Linked DNA regions of Homo sapiens: all the other regions are linked to region 3. The links come from fine-mapping of genetic effects on gene expression. A gene starts in region 3. Each other region holds a variant in brackets. All regions are shown on one strand. Distances are from middle to middle.

Region 1 (4,191 bases), 85 kb before region 3:
AGGGTCCCCAAAGAAAGTGGCATTTGAGTTGAGTCAGACACATGGCAGATAGCTGCTCTTCAAGCCCAGTTGAATCTTGTCAGATTCTCTGAATTGATTCTCCCCATTGCCCCTCTGCAGACTCCCCCTCCCCATTTATCTGGGCAGCCAGGTAAATCCAAGAGACCTCCTTTCCCAGCCCTAGACCGTTTTTTTTTTTCCACCTTCCAGAGGCCAACCTCTGCCCACACCAGTGACCCTACCACTTCCCAGAGCAGTTGGGTGAGTTCTAGACCTTTTAAATCCAGCCTGGCAATCCTGTCCCCCTTTGCAAGGCCCTCCTTTTCCCATCCTCCCTTGCTGCCAGAAGTGGCCATGTCATCTGATTCTAGCCAAGAAATGGCACAGGAAGTCTGCTGAGGAGCTTGTGGAAGTTCCAGCCGTTAAAAGAACACAGACAGGTAAGGAAGGTGTTCTGTCTTCCCTGCTTGCTTTTCCATCTCTGGGGACATGGCAGTCATCATGGCACCATGAGGCTGCAAGCTGAAACATCACTAAAGTGCTTAGAAAGACACGGTAGAGGCTGGGCTTGGTGGCTCACACCTGTAATCACAGCACTTTGGGAAGCCGAGGTGGGTGGATCACTTGAGGTCAGGAGTTCGAGACTAACCTGGTCAATATGGTGAAACCCCATCTTTACTAAAAATAAAAAATTAGGTGGGCGTGGTTGTGCACGCCTGTAATCCCAGCTACTCAGGAGGCTGAGGCAGGAAAATCGCTTGAACCCAGGAGGCAAAGGTTGCAGTGAGCCAAGATTGTGCCGCCACATTCCAGCCTGGGCGACAGAGACTCTGTCTCAAAAAACAAACACACACAGTAGAGTGATTAGAAGTTCATGGGCCCCCACCACTGGGCTTTAGTAAACAGCCACTTAATTAGGGTTGCCATTACTTGCAGTATTTGCCTGGCCCTGCTCACCCCCTCTTCTGCTTAGAAAACAATCCTTGGCTTTGCCCAAGATGGTGGGACTGGGGCTGGAACTCACAGGACAAAGAAAATAAGTTTCAATTATCCTCATATCTGAGGGCAAACCCCAGGTTGTGTCATTGATCCCTGGCCTCTTGCAAACTCTCTCACCCATGCCCATGGTTTCTGTTACTTCCTGGACACTAATAATTGAAATTTCCAGGTCCATCTATGGCCCCACTGCTTAATTTGATCCATGTATTAAAGGATTTCTCTACCTACTCAGTGGTCCAAAATCTACCCCCTACCGTCCTGAACATTCCCTCCTCTTCATGGTTTCCTAGTCAGATGGCCATACTGGGCCTTTGCCTCATCTTCCCATCCATGGTTCTATTGGGCCGTCCAGTGTCTTTCAAACATCGTCTCTCCACTTCCCTGCCTCCACCCTCTTATCAGGCTTCCTCATATTCCTGGGCAAATCTAACTCCCCTTTCTGCTTCTCAACCCATCAACACCATTCAGCCTGCCCTACCTGCTTCAACTCCATGTTCTACTGTTACATATGCAATACCTTAGATGCCTTTTTCATAGTCGTGACGTGTCCCTGGCCCACTCCCAGTGTTTTCCTAGACAGTGGTGATGAGGTATGAATTCTCCAAGGTCCCAATAATCACCCCAGCTCGGCCACCCTCCACCCCTACAGGGATTTGCAAGCAGGCTTTTCACTTTAGACTTTTTAATATTTCATACAGCGATTATGGTGCATTCAGGAACCCAACCCCCCAAACCCACTAGGAGGGCTCCCACCCCTGCCCTCCCACCCCATTTCAGGGCCCCAGGGCTTAGGGTGGAGGAAGGGGAGGTAACCACCCATCCAGGGACTGACCCTGGAGACTGTCCCTGCCCTGCCTCACCCTCCCCAGGAGATAGGGGGCAACACCTGGGCACAACCCCTCACACCCCCCTCCCCCAACCCTGCTTGTGCACATATGCACATTATGGCTCCTCGCTGAGCTGGTCAGTTCCTGGCAGGGCCCCTACCCAACAGCACCGAGTGGGATGGGAGCAAGGGGACTGGGCTGGGGAGACCCTGAGAAGGAAGGAGGCCCCAGCTACGGGACTGCAGGAGAGAAAGAGTGGGGCCCCCCACCTTGTCCATTTCCCAGAGTCTCTGGTAGTCCCCAGATCCCCCTGCAACTGGGGATGGCGGGCGGGGGTAGGAAGGCGAGTGGCTGTGGCATGCTTTCCCATAGCCAATCCCAGGGTCTGGTGATGATCAGGGTTCCAAATAGGGGCTGTGTCCCTGTCTCTGAAAGGCTGGGAGCAGGGCTTCATTGCACAAAATACTGTGGGAGGGCCACACGCAGGGGGTGGGGCCCAGCCAGTCTGTATACAGAGATATTGCATTTAAAAAAAACAAAAATCTCATTTAAAATAATTAAAAAAAAAAAAACAATGAATGAAACAAACAAAAAAAGGCCCACACAATATGAGGCAGGTGGGGCAGGCAGGAAAGCAGGCAGAGGATGCCTCAGACTCAAGGCATTGTCACCATCTTGTCTGAGTCGAGATCCCCAGCCTGGGCTAGCTCTGGACCCCTGGCTGGCCGTGGGGTAGTGGTCCTGGGGGCTGGTATGAT[G/T]GGGGGTAGACCTGGCCTCAGTGTGGGAGGCTGGCACGGCCATGCTGTCCACCGGCAACTACCAAGACAGAGACAGACAGACCAAGTGAAGGAGTGATGAGAGCTTTGTTAGCACCCAGCAGACAGGCCAATGGGTGGGTTGACAGGCCAATGGTGGGGTGTTTGGGCAGGCAGCAGGGGACAAGTGGGCAGGTGAACATGGCTCAGGCAGGTAGGCAGAGAGTAAGCAGGGAAGATGTAGTTGGGGGCTGCCCTGTGAGGGGTGTGGCATCCCTCCAGCCGCTGCCTGCTGGGGCCTCGGTCTGTGGCTTAGAACTCGGTGTCCACCACGCGGAAAGCTGGCCTGCCTGTGGGGGAAAGCAGAGCAGATGGCTGTTGGTGGGTAAGCAGGTAGGTGGGTGGGGCAGGGAGGAAGACAAGGGGCTATACCTACCTGAGTCAGGCATCGACGAAGACCGAAGGCTGGCCTCCTTTTGTAGCTGAATCTCCTTTAGTGCAAATATGGAAGTAGCTACAGATGGGGGAGACATAGAAGTGGGGGATGACCCATGAGGTCATCTAGGACCAGCCCCATATGACCCCATGGGAAGAATTAGAAAAAGCTGCCCCTTCTCTGAGAGGCTTGACCTTTATCTGTCAAACAATTCCATACACAAACCAGCTACAACCAGGGAAGATGAAATATAGACTATTACATGACACAAAGAAATCATTATTAACTTTGTCAAGTGAATTATGGTATTGCAATTACCACCTGTTAAGTCTAGGTGATGGGTGGTGTTTGGGGTTTGCTTTATATATTAATCCAGTGGGAAGATAGGGAAAGTGAGCAAATGTTTTTTGTAGGTTTGATAATAATATTGTTGTTTTAAAAAAATCTTTTATAGGTATATGCTGAAATTATTTAAGGATAAATGCTATGATGTCTGGGATTGGATGTGATTCAAAATAATCAGAGAGAATATAGATAAAACCAGATTGACCATGAATTGATGACTCACTGGAGTACTTAGGGACTCATCATATTACTTTGACTAATATATAAATACATATATTTGAAAATATCCATATTAAAAAGTTTTTAAAAGCCAGATATAAAAAGAACATCACATGTGATTCTATTTCTATAAAGTACAAGGACAGAAAAAACTTATCCTTGCTGTTAGAGGTCAAAACAGTGGCCACCCTTTGGGAAGGGGCTGGGAATAACTGAAGGAGATGCAAGGGAGCTGGGGGTGGGGAGCTTTTAACATTCTGTTTCTTGACTTTTGTGCTAGTTACAAGGATGTGTTTCATTTATGAAAATTCATTGTATAGTATACTTATGATTTGTGCATTTTTTAGCACATGTAAGGAAATGTCTACTTTAAAAAAAGTAAAGTGCTATTGCATATATTTTTATGTATGTTTTAAATTTTTCATGAAAGGTAAAAGGAACTGAAAACTAAAAAATGTTTTCATAACAAATACAACCCATCACACACGTGAACAAGATGTCCCCCCACGTAGAGGTGGCACAGCCAGAATCCTACACAACCCGCCAGCTGGCCCCAGCAGTCCTGTTTCCCAGTCCCCACGCTGGCCGGTCCATTCCCCAGCTCCACTCA
Region 2 (4,196 bases), 120 kb before region 3:
GCTGGAAGTGCAGTGGCGCAATCTCGGCTCTCTGCAGCCTCCGCCTCCTGGGTTCAGGTGATTCGCATGCCTCAGTAGCTGGGATTACAGGGGTGCACCACCACACCCAGCTAATTTTTGTATTTTTAGTAGAGACGGGGTTTCACCATTTTGCCTAGGCTGGTCTCGAATCCCTGACCTCAGGTGATCCACCGGCTTCAGCCTCCCAAACTGCTGGGATTACAGGCACGAGCCACCGGGCCTGGACTTCTTCCTTTTTTTTTTTTTTTTTTTTTTTTTGAGACAGGTTCTCCCTCGGTTGCCCAGGCTGGAGTGCAGTGGCGCAATCACAGCTCACTGCAGCCTTGACCTCCTGGGTTCAAAGGATCCTCCCACCTCAGCTTCCTGAGTAGCTGTGACTGCAGGCTCGAACCAACAGGCTCAGATGGTTTTTGTATTTTTTGTGGAGACAGGATCTCCCTATGTTGCCCTAGCTGGTCTGGAACTCCTGGGCTCAAGCAATCTGCCCACCTCAACTTCCTAACGTGCTAGAATTACAGACGCGAGCCACCATGCCTGACTAGAAAGGACCTTATTGAGACAACTGATAAAACTTAAATGGGGTTTGAGATTAGATGGTAATAACATATTACATTTTGATGGCTATATTTTGGTTATATGAGAATGTTCTTTTTTTTTTTTTTTTTTGAGACAGAGTCTCCCTCTGTCACCCACCCTGGAGTGCAGTGGTGTGATCTCGGCTCACTGCAACTTCTGCCTCCCAGGTTCAAGTGATTATCCTGCCTCAGCCCCCTGAGTATCTGGGACTGTAGGCGCCCGCCACCACATCTGGCTAATTTTTGTATTTTTAGTAGAGATGGGGTTTCACCATGTTTGGTCAGGCTGGTCTTGAACTCCTAACCTCAGGTGACCCACCGGCCTCCGCCTACCAAAGTGCTGGGATTACAGGCATGAGCCACTGCGCCTGGCCAACGTTCTCATTTGTAGGAAATACACACTACAGCATTCAGGGATGATCAGGCATCAGGTTAACAATTATTTTTTTCAACCAAAGTATGTGACTAAGCACCTTAACTTTAAGTGGTTCAGAGAGAAAAGTTATGTGTACTATACCTGTGACTTTTCTGTAAGTTTGGGATTGTTTTAAAGTAATATATTCTAAAACACTAACCAAGGTTATCTGCACACTTTTTTTTTTTTTTTTTTTTTTTTTGAGAGGTAGTTTCACTCTTTCGCCCAGGCCAGAGTGCAATCTCAGCTCACTGCAACCTCTGCCTCCCGGGTTCAAGCAATTTCCTGCCTCCAGAGTAGCTGGGATAACAGGCCCCTGCAACCACACTCGGCTAATTTTTATATCTTTAGTAGAGATGGGGGTTTCACTATGTTGGTCAGGCTGGTCTCGAACTCCTGGCCTCATGATCCACCCACCTCAGCCTCCCAAAGTGTTGGGATTACAGGCGTGAGCCACTGAGCCCAGCTTACTTAAGGTTTTGCACATGGCTGGGCACGGTGGCTCACTCCTGTAATCCCAGCACTCTGGGAGGCTGAGGTGGGTGGATCATGAGGTCAGGAGATCGAGACCATCCTGGCTAACACGGTGAAACCCCGTCTCTACTAAAAATACAAAAAAAAAAATTAGCCGGGCGTGGTGGTGGGCACCTGTAGTCCCAGTTACTCGGGAGGCTGAGGCAGGAGAATGGCGTGAACC[C/T]GGGAGGTGGAGCTTGCAGTGAGCCCAGATAGTGCCTCTGCACTCCAGCCTGGGCGACAGAGCAAGACTCCATCTCAAAAAAAAAAAAAAGGTTTTGTACGGAGACTAGTACAATAAATGTTCATATGTCCACCATCTAGATTTAATAATTATTAAAATGTCATCAGGCAAAAATTTCCAGACTGAGCACTGGGGTCATGTGAGGTCCAGCAAAGAAAAATAACGTGCCCAAGGCCACACAGTCGGCTAGTTGTGACAGAGCTTGACTTTGAACCCTGGCAGTCTGGCTCCAGGATCTTTTTTTTTTTTTCTTTTTATTGAGATGGAGTCTCGTTCTGTCACCCAGGCTGGAGTGCAGTGGCGCAATCTTGGCTCACTGCAAGCTCCGCCTCCCGGGTTCACGCCATCCTCCTGCCTCAGCCTCCCGAGTAGCTGGGACTACAGGCACCCGCCACTATGCCCGGCTAATTTCTTTTTTTGTATTTTTGGTAGAGACGGAGTTTCACCGTGTTAGCCAGTATGGTCTCGATCTCCTGACCTTGTGATCCGCCCGTCTCGGCCTCCCAAAGTGCTGGGATTACAGGCGTGAGCCACCACGCCCAGCCAGCTCCAGAATCTTAATTACTACGTGAAACTGCCTCTGTACAGATATAAGGAAATGTTTATGTAGTTTAATTTCAGTCATGTGTCTGTACATGACTTACAGTCTTTTCTGTACTTTTTCCTGCAAGGTTGCATTTATTTATTTATTTTTTATTTTTATTTTTATTTTTATTTTTTGAGACTGAGTCTCGCTCTTGTTGCCCAGGCTGGAGTGCAGTGGTGCAATCTCAGCTTACTGCAACCTCTGCCTCCCGGGTTCAAGCAATTCTCCTGCCTCAGTCTCACGAGTAGCTGGGATTACAGGTGCCCACCACAATGCCCAGCTAATTTTTTATATTTTTAGTAGAGACAGGATTTCGCCATGTTGGCCAGGCTGGTGTCTAAGTCCTGACCTCAGGTGATTCGCTGCCTGGGCCTCCCAAAGTGCTGGGATTACAGGCATGAGCCACTGTGCTCGGCCTCCAGCCATTTGAAAGTAAGTTGCAGACAGCAATCTCCTTCAATTCTAAATTCTTCAGCATGCATCTCCTAAAAGTAAGTACATTCTCTTACATTATCATGTTACGTTTACACACCTAAGACAATTAGCAATAATTCCCTAATATCACTTAATATCCAGTCCATGTTTAATTTTCCCCAGTTGTCCCATACATCTTTTATAACTTTTTTAAAAGACAAGATTCAGTCCAGGCTCATTTATTCCATACACATGCACCTCTTTAGTCTCTTAAACTAAAACAGTGTGTTCATTTTAAAGATGCCAATCCCCAGCATTTAAAGACCCCTGTAATCCCAGCATTTTGGGAGGCCAAGGCAGGAGAATCACTTGACATCAGGAATTTGAGATCGGCCTGGACAGCATAGTGAGACCCCCCCCTTAATCTCTACAAAATAAATAAATAAATAAAATAGGCAGTGTTTTGTTTTGTTTTTGAGACAGGGTCTCACTCTGTCACCCAGGCTTGAGCGCAGCAATGCAATCTCAGCTCTCTGTAGCCTTGGCCTCCCAGACTCAGATGATCCTCCCATCTCAGCCTCCTGAGTAGCTGGGACTACAGGGGTACACCACCACACGTGGCTAATTTTTGTTTTTTTTTTTTAAGGGACGGGATCTCACTATGTTGTTCACAATTCACAATGTCATCCAACTCATCTTTTAACTTTTTCTGTGAAGAAGACAAAATGCCACCATCAGGCACGGTGGCTCATGCCTGTAATCCCAGCACTTTGGGAGGCCAAGGCTGGCAGATCACTTGAGACTGGGAGTTCAAGACCAGCCTGGGCAACATAGCAACACCACCTCTTGATTATAACATTATTACTTTTTGAAAAATGCCACCAGTTCATGTATTTAGACAACTTTATCACTATTGCTCAGGGGAAAAGCCTGTCTTGGTCTAGGAGAATTCCACAGAACATTCTTTTATTTGGTAAAGTGGGAAATTCTAGGATCTGGTAGTGCATTAATCTAATTACCAAAATGATACCACTCATACCACGCTTGGATTAGTAACTTTTCAAATAATTTGGAAACAAACAAAAAAACCATTTAACATTAAAATTGAAAATAATTCCAACTTTGTTTCACTTGAAGAAGGCGGGTCCCAATCCTGTTGTGTTGCCGGTGTCCACGTTCCAGCTTTTTGCTAATCAACAAAGCCATCCTTTCTGTCTCACAAACTGTTCCCTGGACGTTTCACAATCTTTGTTGCACGCATTAGGGCTTTGTGGGTGATGATAAAAAGGGGATGTTTTGTTTCGTTTTATCATTAGGACCTTTAAAAGAGTAGCAAGTTATTCTGCTGGACTTCCCAAAATGTAGCTGGGAAGAACAATATAGCCGATCAAAAGCTGAAAATTACTTTCAAGGACTCAGGAAGGGAAC
Region 3 (4,196 bases):
AGGGCTTTGCCACCTAAGACAGGTAGACAAATTCAAGCCTGGGGCTGCATCCCAGGGTGGGGGTAGGGGACTCTCAGGGCTGAAAGTCTTGCCTGAGATTCAGCACATCAGACAAGACTTCACAACAATGGGGGCCCCAGGCTCCTTCCACAGGCCCCAAGGGACCATCTCATCCTCCCAACAAGCTGCTGGCTGTCCCCTATAAGGCAGCAAAAGACCATGAAAGGCTCTTGGGGGGGTGTGTGAAGGGGCGAACTTGGCGACGAGACAGCTGCCACCTCCCTGGGCTCCTGGCCAACACAGCCTTGGCCCTCACACAGCAACTGGCTCAGCCCTGAGCCCTGTCTCTTATGTGCAGCCCGGTCCTAAGGTGGTTCCCTCCCCAGGGCTCAAGCCCGGTTTCCAGAGGCAAAAGGGGCCCTTTTGGAGGCTGTTCTGAACCACTGTGCTCTTCTATTGGGATGGAGCAGCAGCCACTTCATCCAACCCTCAGGGCTGTGGTGAGAACTCAGGGAGTCCTGAGAACCCTGTGACCCAGCCAGAGGTCAGGATGAATCCCAGATCTTCAGGCCCCACCCTCTGAATAAGAAGCAGGTAAAGCCAGGCAATAATAGCACCTGCTCAACACTAGGTTGCTGCCACACCTTTGCTCTATGCTCGTGCACACACATACACAGACAAACACACTCCAATTTTCTCTTCCTCCTCAAGCCACAGGGAACCCGAGTTACCTGCTCCCAGGTGGGCAAGAGTTAGAATCACACAGAGGCACTGGCGTCTGAGAGCACAAAAACCTTCAAGAGACTCTGGCAAAGGGGCCAGAGTCACACAGTAACATCCACCACAGCCAAGGGCCAGTCACAGACACGAGCCCCAAATAACTACGGGCCCACATCACAGAAGGAACACACAGTAAGGACCACAATTACACAGTGGGTCCCCTTTCCATGGATGAGCGTCAGTGTCACAGATACAAACTCCCCAAAAGAAGGGGCAATGAGTCACACACACATTCCCTGCATGCCCCTTCCCACCCAATAAGTGGGTTAGGGTCAATCAAAAGACAGTCGTCCCCCAAGCCCCGCCCCATGGATAAGGATCAGAGTCACAGACCGCCCCCCCTCAAAGGGTAAAGACCAGAGTCACATCCCCCCTCCGATCCCCCAGGAATAGAGACCAGAACCACAGAATATTTCCCCATGGACCGATAAACACCAGAGTAACACAGAGCAGCATCCCCTCTCCTATGCACAAACTCAAAGTCGCAGACAACCGCTTCCCCACTGATAAACTTCGATGTAGCCGACACAGTGATCCACAGTAGCCCACTCCCATCCGTCCCTCCCTTCCCCCAACCCGCATGCACCCATCCCATGTCCCAGTCGCGCACGCGCCTTTGCTCACACCAAAAAAAAAAAAAAAAAAAAAAAAAACCAAAAAAAAAAAAACCCTCCCGGGTTGAGACATTGCACCAACCCCTCCGTTCCGCGCATCTCCCCCGACCCGAAGTCCGCCCTCGCGCCTCCTCTACGTCCCCGCCCCGGGCCCCTTACCTCCGCCCCCACGACCAGCGTCGACGCTCACCTTCTCGGCCCGGGCTGTCAAGGAAGGGCTCCCAGACATCACCTCTGCCCGCCGCCACCTCCTCCAACTCTCCCAGCTCAGCCGGAGCCGGAGCGCGCAACAACCAAGTCCGAGACTGGAGGCAGATCGGGGGGAGGGGAGAAGCGCCAAGCGCGCTGCCCTCCCAGGGAAACTCACTGCCGCCTACTCCCAGCCGGCCACAGTCACCAGCTCAAAATGGCGACGACGAGAAGGGAGTCGGCGCTCCGACCACCATCCACCTACTAAGGAAGCGCGCTCTGGCCGGCCCCGGCGATTGGTCACCGCCCGCTAGGGGACAGCCCTGGCCTCCTCTGATTGGCAAGCGCTGGCCACCTCCCCACACCCCTTGCGAACGCTCCCCTAGTGGAGAAAAGGAGTAGCTATTAGCCAATTCGGCAGGGCCCGCTTTTTAGAAGCTTGATTTCCTTTGAAGATGAAAGACTAGCGGAAGCTCTGCCTCTTTCCCCAGTGGGCGAGGGAACTCGGGGCGATTGGCTGGGAACTGTATCCACCCAAATGTCACCGATTTCTTCCTATGCAGGAAATGAGCAGACCCATCAATAAGAAATTTCTCAGCCTGGCCGAAAATGGTTGGCCCCACGAAGCCACGACAACTGGAGGCAAAGAGGGTTGCTCAACGCCCCGCCTCATTGGAAAACCAAATCAGATCTGGGACCTATATAGCGTGGCGGAGGCGGGGCGATGATTGTCGCGCTCGCACCCACTGCAGCTGCGCACAGTCGCATTTCTTTCCCCGCCCCTGAGACCCTGCAGCACCATCTGTCATGGCGGCTGGGCTGTTTGGTTTGAGCGCTCGCCGTCTTTTGGCGGCAGCGGCGACGCGAGGGCTCCCGGCCGCCCGCGTCCGCTGGGAATCTAGCTTCTCCAGGACTGTGGTCGCCCCGTCCGCTGTGGCGGGAAAGCGGCCCCCAGAACCGACCACACCGTGGCAAGAGGACCCAGAACCCGAGGACGAAAACTTGTATGAGAAGGTGAGAGGCGGGGGGGGGGGGGGGGGTAGTGGGGACGGAACCCCGAAGGGGTCAGTCCGGGATCGGCAGATGGGGCGCTGTAGAGGACGTTCTTAGGCAGTAGAGGACTGCGCGGCCGGCGAAAGCCTAGAAGACTTGGGAATTTTGCCTACCTTGTGTTCCTCCTTTGTCTCTCGGTATCTTCGTTCCAGGGCCAGAGGCAGGATTGGTTTTATTTTGCAGACAGAAATCACACCTCAAGTGGACAGCGCTCAAAACACGTTAGAAGCAGTATAGTACAACGATAATACTAAACACCGATATGGCACTTGCTCGTTGCCGTCTGCATTCTTTTTTTTTTTTTTATAGGGACGAGATCTCGCTATGTTGCCCAGGCTGGTCTCGAACTCCTGGCTCAAGCGATCCTCTCGCCTCGGCCTCCCAAGGTGCTGGGATTACAGGCATGAGCCACCGCTCCGGGCCCCGTCTGTGTTCTAAACACTTGACATGCATTAGCTCATCTTATACTCGAAACAAACCCCATTTCGAGGTGGGCTCTATTATTATACTCATCCTACAGATGAGGAAACTGAGGCACAGAGATGTTAAGTGGATTGCCCTAGCTCACATAACTGAATACATGGTGGAGGTGGAACTGGTATTTGAATTTAGGGCTACCAGGTCTGCTGTGCTGTATTAATAGCAGACGCTGTGAAATCAGGCAGCACTGACGGTTACCCACCCGTGTGATCTTGGTAGCATAAACCCTTGGTGCCTCAGTTTCTTTGTCTGTAAGATGGGAACAGTAATAGGACACCTTCTAAAAAATAGGACACCCCACCTGCCTCATGTAATTAAATGAGTAAAAATGGTCAGAACAGCAGCTGGCACTTCGTAAGTATGTACTCAGCACTAGAATGTGTTTATTATTGCCATGTTTCACCTCACTGAGATATTGTGAGGTGTTTCTATGTGAAAAGACTGGCACATAATAAGTACTTCATCAATACTAACCTCTGGTTAAGGGGCTTGGATATATAGGATGCTTGTTCATTCTGTAAATATGTATTGAGGGCCTGCTGTATGCCAGGCTCAGTTCAGGGCCCTGGGGATACAGCAGTGTGGAAATCAGACAAAGCCCATGCTCTCATAGAGCTTACATGATAGTGGGGAAGACAGAAAATAAACAGTAAAATATTAGAAAACAATAATACAAAGTAGTATAATAGATAATATAACATGAGAATGTATGATATACAGAGAATGGGGAAAGTATGCTACTTAGGTAAACATAGACTAGAAAGAGACAGAAGGAAGAGAGGATGTGAAGACAAAGTTAAGCAAGATAAGTGGATAGAGAATGACTTGGGTGTAGGGGGCTATTTCATTAGCTTGAGCTATAAGAAATTGCCAGTATTCAACCATTTGTGACCTATAAAAATAGCAGTTTCCTATGCTTCAACTTTGAAAGACAAGGTAACTAGGGAGTGCCTCCTGAAGGAAGTGGTGATGAATCTAAAACCTTGAATGAGGAGACAGATCCAGCCATGACTAGAGCTGGAAGAAAGGCTTTCCAGGCAGAGAGAGCAGCAAGTGCAGTGGCCCTGCAGTGGGAAGGAG

Evidence for each region.
Region 1: its variant is fine-mapped to the expression of NDUFB11 in whole blood (TOPMed, PIP 0.91).
Region 2: its variant is fine-mapped to the expression of NDUFB11 in whole blood (TOPMed, PIP above 0.99).

Annotation. Positions count from the first base shown.
Region 1 is chrX:47,227,471-47,231,661 of GRCh38, reverse strand. It overlaps CDK16 (cyclin dependent kinase 16), which reads right to left. Exons shown (of 16, transcript NM_006201.5): 15 at 3,018-3,095; 16 at 1,665-2,931. The coding sequence ends at 2,894. Among named protein-coding and RNA genes, the nearest start is that of USP11, 3.4 kb to the left of the region's middle. RefSeq lists enhancers at 2,272-2,772, 2,773-3,273. The variant G/T (reference allele first, on the strand shown) is at 2,585.
Region 2 is chrX:47,267,769-47,271,964 of GRCh38, reverse strand. No RefSeq gene overlaps it. Among named protein-coding and RNA genes, the nearest start is that of USP11, 37 kb to the right of the region's middle. The variant C/T (reference allele first, on the strand shown) is at 1,709.
Region 3 is chrX:47,142,874-47,147,069 of GRCh38, reverse strand. It overlaps NDUFB11 (NADH:ubiquinone oxidoreductase subunit B11), which reads left to right and starts at 2,368. Exons shown (of 3, transcript NM_001135998.3): 1 at 2,368-2,597. The coding sequence starts at 2,391. It overlaps RBM10 (RNA binding motif protein 10), which reads right to left and starts at 1,849. Exons shown (of 24, transcript NM_005676.5): 1 at 1,585-1,849. RefSeq lists an enhancer at 1,556-1,825.